2 separate regions of the Homo sapiens genome follow, and region 2 is linked to region 1. Evidence: fine-mapped expression QTL. A gene starts in region 1. The other region holds a variant in brackets. All regions are shown on one strand. Distances are from middle to middle. Region 1 holds the start of SCAF8 (SR-related CTD associated factor 8). Region 2 has its middle 2.3 kb from the start of MIR1273C.

Region 1 (2,918 bases):
AGAATTTGAGATTTTGAAAGTAAATATAAAAGCACTTGGTGAGTTATCCCTGTTACCTTCTCAGTAGCCAGGCCCTATACTAAAGCTGCCAATGAAGTAGAATGAAGGCTCTGAAACCTCAAGAAGGGCCTTACTTTCCCAGTTTCACGGGGCTCTGCGCACAGCTCTTAGGAACTACCTTGATTCCAAAACTCTCCAAAAGTACGATCCTGCCCTTATGTTCCTCTCTCCCTTTGAGTGAATTTGGGAATGATTGTTGAAAAATGACTTTCAACAAGAGGACAGCAGTGTTCGGGGTTCCACGATACATCCCTATCTTTTAACATCGATAAGTATTTTTAAATTGGTACCTTATTTTGCGCTGCACGAGAGAGAAGGCTTTTTACTAGCAGCATCTCCTAATCCATCTAAGAAATACTGTATTTACCTTTACTCCAAGTATCCTAGGGCAAAATTCCTTTAGAACAATTCATCTTCCGAAACAGACGGGTTCCCTTTTCACCTATTCAAGTGTTGTGCATTCTAGGGTCCCCTTCCCGCCTTGCAGACAAATGCGCTCATTGTGCCACTCCAGTCCCTGGATCCTATGCAGCGGGCATTTCCTGCAAGGAGCTGCTGCATGCCTGTTTCCCTCGCCGCCTGCCCCAACCCGAATCCAAGGCTTTGGTTTCTAATGTTCCCTCCCTGTGCAGTTAAAACAATTGAGTTCAGTTACTAAATAGATGACCAGGAACTTTTTCTTGGCGAAGGCTGCGGATGTTTAGGGCACTGTCCAGTAAAGTTGTGAAAAGCAACTAAACCCTGCCGCTTGTGCAAAAGGACCAATCCACCGGGAAACAAGGGAAACGCGCACATTTCCTCAACTTGCCGCTTCTTGGGCACGTTTAGGCTCTTATTAGAGCCGCGCTTTGGAGTTGCCTCCTCCTGCTGTACAAACCCGCCGCGGCGTTCCCCCGGATGCCGCAGCGCTCACTCCCGCGTCCGCGGGGCGCGGGGAGGGGGCGAGGCGCGGGCGGCCCCGGAGCCAAGGCGAGGGCAGCGGAGCCCAGCCGGGCCTACGGGCGGCGACGCTCTGGCCCCAGCGCGCTCGATGGTTTCCGCGCGGCCGCCGGGGCTCGCACGGTCCAGTCGCCAGGGGGCGCGCTAGCCGGCGCCGCGGATCCCCGAACTGCGCGGCCCGACTCGAGTCCGCCATATTGGATGCCGCAGCCGCTGCTGCCAGCGCTTCCTCCTCTGTCTTCGCCGAGCGGGGCTGGTTCCTGCGGCCCGAGCGGCGGGGAGGTGAAACAGGAGCCCGTCGGAGGAAGGGGCAGAAGGGAGTGGAGAGTGTAGGGGAAGGGGCTAGAGGGAGGGGGACCGAAACGGAGCGGGGCAGAGAAGAGAAGGCGCCGCGGCCCAGCCCCTCCCCCGCCCGCCGCCGACCCGCCCCGGCAGCGCCTCTGTTCCCTAGAACGGCGCTCCCCCCGCCCTAGCGGCCATGCCGGTGCCGCTCTGCCGCTGAGGGAGCCCTTCCCCGCCAGCGCGTGCCCTTCCACTCCGCCCCGAGGTCGCAGCGGCCCGCTCTCCCGCCAGCGCCCCCTCCTCGCGGCCACGCAGCAGCCCGCGTCTCGCTCTCCCCACCCAGTGCAGTGGCCGCCGCCTCTTCCGCCGCCGGGCTCGGGGCCTCCGCAGCGACAACATGGAGGCCGTGAAGACCTTCAATAGCGAGGTTGGTATGGCAGCCGGGTTCCCCTGCTCCTGCCCGCACCGCCCCCACCCCTGGTCGAGGCCGGGGCCCGGAGGGTGGGCGCGGGCCTGCGGGTTTTTTAAGGGTGGGGTGAGCGGTGGCCTAGCAGTGCCCGTGGGGGAGGGGTGTTTCTCCTCTGGGTGCCCCTCCCCCGGGTCCGGGAGGAGGGTTGGGGGAGGGCCGCCCTGGGGCGGAGGGAGGTTCTGGCGTCTCCGGCGTCCTATGGAATGGCTGCGAGCTCGGAGGGAAAGACCCGGTTGGGCCCTCACCCGGAGACTCCCGACAGGTCCCTCGAGGTCAGTTCCGCCGAGGCCTGGCCCGCCCACCTCCTTCCTGGGCCTTTGAGGATTTAAGTGGACGCTGGACATGACTCTCCAGACCTTCCCGGGTCCTCACTGAGGCTAACACCGATTGGGGGCGGTGGGGGAAATGAACCTACGGGGTGTTGATCTGTGGTCACGTTACACGTAGTGTTTATAATTGAGGCATTGTTGACTAGGTAATTTGCCAGCTAGGGACTTGAGCTAATTGGATGGTTGGTAGGCAGGCAAAGGTTATTCTGCAATATCTTTTATTTTTACTCGCTCCTCTTCTAATCCATCACGACATAAAGACAAATGGTAGGGAGAGATCTGTGCATCGAGAGATGGAAGATTATGGGGGAAACATTTCTCGCTGGTTCATTCACGTGTCAAACAAGATTTTAAAAAGCAGATTCCATTTTCACTGTGTAGTTGAATTTACTAGTCTGGAAGAAGACAGGTTTTGATGTATTCAATTTCTTTTTAAACTCCGACTTCAATAGGCCTTAATGTAAACATCAAACATAGCAAGTACACATCTGCACAGTCAGCATTAGTATCCCTACCCGTACGCCTTGGAAAGTGTAATTATGGCCGGGAACAGTGGCTCAGGCCTGTAATCCCAGCACTTTGGGAGGCCGAGGCGGGCCAATCACGAGGTCAGGAGTTCAAGACCAGCCTGGCCAACGTGGTGAAACCCTGTCTCTACTAAAAATACAAAAAATTAGCTGGGCGTAGTGGCAGGCACCTGTAATCCCAGCTACTTAGGAGGCTGAGGCAGGAGAATCGCTTGAACCTGGGAAGCGGAGGTTGCAGTGAGCCGAGATCTGCGCCACTGCAATCCAGCCCAGTGACAGAGTGAGACTCTGTCTACAAAAAAAAAAAAAAGA
Region 2 (2,918 bases), 120 kb after region 1:
GTTGAGGTGGAAGTCTGTGGATTAGGACTGAGGGAATACCTTCTTTGGTTCTTTCTGATTTTTTGACAGGCTTCCCTAAGTTTGTCCTAGGCCTCACTCTACCTTAGTAGATACTGGCAATGTGCCCATTAGGAGAGAATAGAATTCAGTAAAATGTGAAAGGTTTTTAAAAAGTGTCATTGATAAATAAGATGAAAAGATTGGAAACCATCAAAGCTTTATTACTTAAAAGTTAACGTAGGCACTATGTTCAGCTCAAGTACCTTAAGAGGTATGTCTTCGTGCTTACACATCAACATACAGAGGTTAATGTTGTTATATGGCACAACTTTTGTGTAGGAAATGTTTCAGTCACAGTATTAAAGTTTCTATTAAAATATTTCTAAAAATATGGGAAATGTGACATTTTAAATTAATGGGCCTGAAAAAAATAGCTTAAAGTTAAATGTTTTTATCGGATTATAAGAGTTCCAAGTTTCTTTCTAGATTATTTGAAATAGTTTACAAAATGCTATTTTAAACAGACTTTCAACCTGTTTCAAAACTCAAATATAGATGCCTGAGGGTTGAGAGAAAGAGAGTGTGTTACCACATGTTTATCATTGGAATGTAGAAACAAATTCATACTCAATTCAGCAAATACTTATTGAATAATATATATATTTCAGATGCCTTGATAAAAATTGGTGACAGTAGGTAATTGAGAAAGATATTACGTTATTGACAGAACACAGTTCCTGCCTTCAAGGAGTTTACCTTTTAGTGAGAAACAACCAGTAAATTCTATTTCAATATAATGTATGAATTGCTGTAACAGATTGGGTACGTAAGATACAGCTAGAACATAGAGAAAGGATGCTAGTTGCTAGATTTTCATTAGAAGATGCATTTTTGTTTCAGCAAATTAACTTCCTAAGTCTCAATATCCTCATCTATAAAACTAGAAATAAAAAGTACCTGGAAGACTCATTTTGAGGGTCAAATGAAAATACATGTGCAGTGCTTAGTACAATACATAAAACAGACTGCATAATAAATGTTGACTGCTGCTAATACTTAGTGGCCATTACTTAGGAAATCTTTCCTTCTGTCTTTGTGATTTCTGCTTCCCTTTCTTCTTTATTTATTTATTTTATTTTTAATATTCGTAGCCCTAGTCCATGGATTTGAAGGAAACATTGCTAAAATCATGGAGGTA[A/C]AATTTAGGTTTCTTTGGACATTTCTTTTCTCCTATTGTCCCTTCCCTGCCCACCCAACATGAATAACCCTAGTCTCCTCTTTAACTTTTGAAAGTTTCCGGAACAGTAATGGTAGGGTCCTTTTACAGCATGATGTCACGTGTTACTCAAGACTTGTACTGTCCAGTATGGTAGCCTTTAGTCACCTATTGCTATTTAAATTTATAAAAAATTAAAAATTCAGTTCCTCAGTCACACCAGTCACACTTAAATGCTCAACAGCCACATTAGCTAGTGCCTACCAAATTGAGCGGCACAAGTACAGAACATTTCCAGGAGGTCCTATTTTATAGCGTTACTCTAGAAGAGCAATTGCTGATAACATAGGCTGTTTACCTTAATTAAAATTATATGATTCAGAATTCTCTGTCCCAAACTATATTTAAATTTTTTTTTTTTTTTAATTCTCACTTCTGGTTAGTTTCCATTAAGGAGTTACCATGCTTCACAATGCTGATTCTTATTTTTATAAATATAAACTCTACATTGGTATTTCAATTTGTGTTTTAAGTCTTACTAAAATGTCTTGGGGTGTTTTTTTCAAATATAATTCAGTGAAGTTTTCAGACTCTTTTAAGTCACATCTTTAAAATGCTATTTCTGATTAAAGATAACGTAACATAATGTTGCGATAAATATGTATTCTGCTCTACAATAAATATATAGACTGCTTTACTCCCTTCTTTCTTCTTCAGTCTTTTATGTATTATATTTGCCTTTTCTGAGCAATTCAGCTTGCTTTTTCCAAATACAGTATTCAGTTAGGGTGTTTCATACACCAGCTGCCATTTACATCTATGTTATTACCTATGGCAGACACCTACACATGCTGACAGACAATTTTAAGTCAGTCAGTCCATCCTTAAGGTTACCAAAAGACCAGAAAGATTATCTACTGACTGCTGCTGGGCAGATTTTACACTGAGTTTGAAGTGTTCAGTTATATATAACATTCTGGCTCAGTTCGTCAAGAACTCATCCATAATTCTTCCTGGAAGTGTCCTCATGTGCAACTGTCAGGATCTTTCCAGAGAGACTTTTAAAAAAATTCTGTAACCCTAAAAATGATGTTTGCTACTTTTTGATTTGTTGCAATATAAACAGGTAATATTTACAGACAATATAAGTAAATACTGAGTTCCTTTTCATACTATGAACTACGTTATTGCTATGTTGACCTGTTGAGTTCACTGTATACTTTATGAAGCCATATTCTCAACAATATATCATGATATCAATGATCTTTAGTAATTAGTCTTTTATTCTGAAAGATTGGGCACCAGATCAGAGTTGAAGAGAAAGTGAATAAGCCTTTAATGTTTTAACAATATCTTGGAGTTTGAAAACACCATAGAGATCACTGGCTGTATTTTTTAGAAAAGAAAAAATTTAAAAGAAATTGTGACTTATAGTCATGGGCCTACGTAGCAGTTTTCTTTTTTAATGTATACTTTATTCCATATAAGTTGGTATATAATGTTTACAATTTACACATCTCTATAGAAATGCAATGAACAAATTTGAATTCAGAGAGACTCAAAGAGGGCCAGTTACTTCATGTCTCATTGTCTCAGTTTTTTTTTTTTTTAATGTAAAATGGGCCAATTATTGTGTTGAGCTTAAGTGTTTGTTTTGAAGACCTAAAGAGTAATGCATGGTACTAACACATGCCACAGCATG

The links.
Region 2: its variant is fine-mapped to the expression of SCAF8 in whole blood (TOPMed, PIP 0.91).

Annotation. Positions count from the first base shown.
Region 1 is chr6:154,732,223-154,735,140 of GRCh38, forward strand. It overlaps SCAF8 (SR-related CTD associated factor 8), which reads left to right and starts at 1,194. Exons shown (of 20, transcript NM_014892.5): 1 at 1,194-1,708. The coding sequence starts at 1,679. RefSeq lists silencers at 827-1,066, 1,097-1,216, 1,367-1,966 and an enhancer at 1,227-1,730.
Region 2 is chr6:154,854,224-154,857,141 of GRCh38, forward strand. No RefSeq gene overlaps it. Among named protein-coding and RNA genes, the nearest start is that of MIR1273C, 2.3 kb to the left of the region's middle. The variant A/C (reference allele first, on the strand shown) is at 1,199.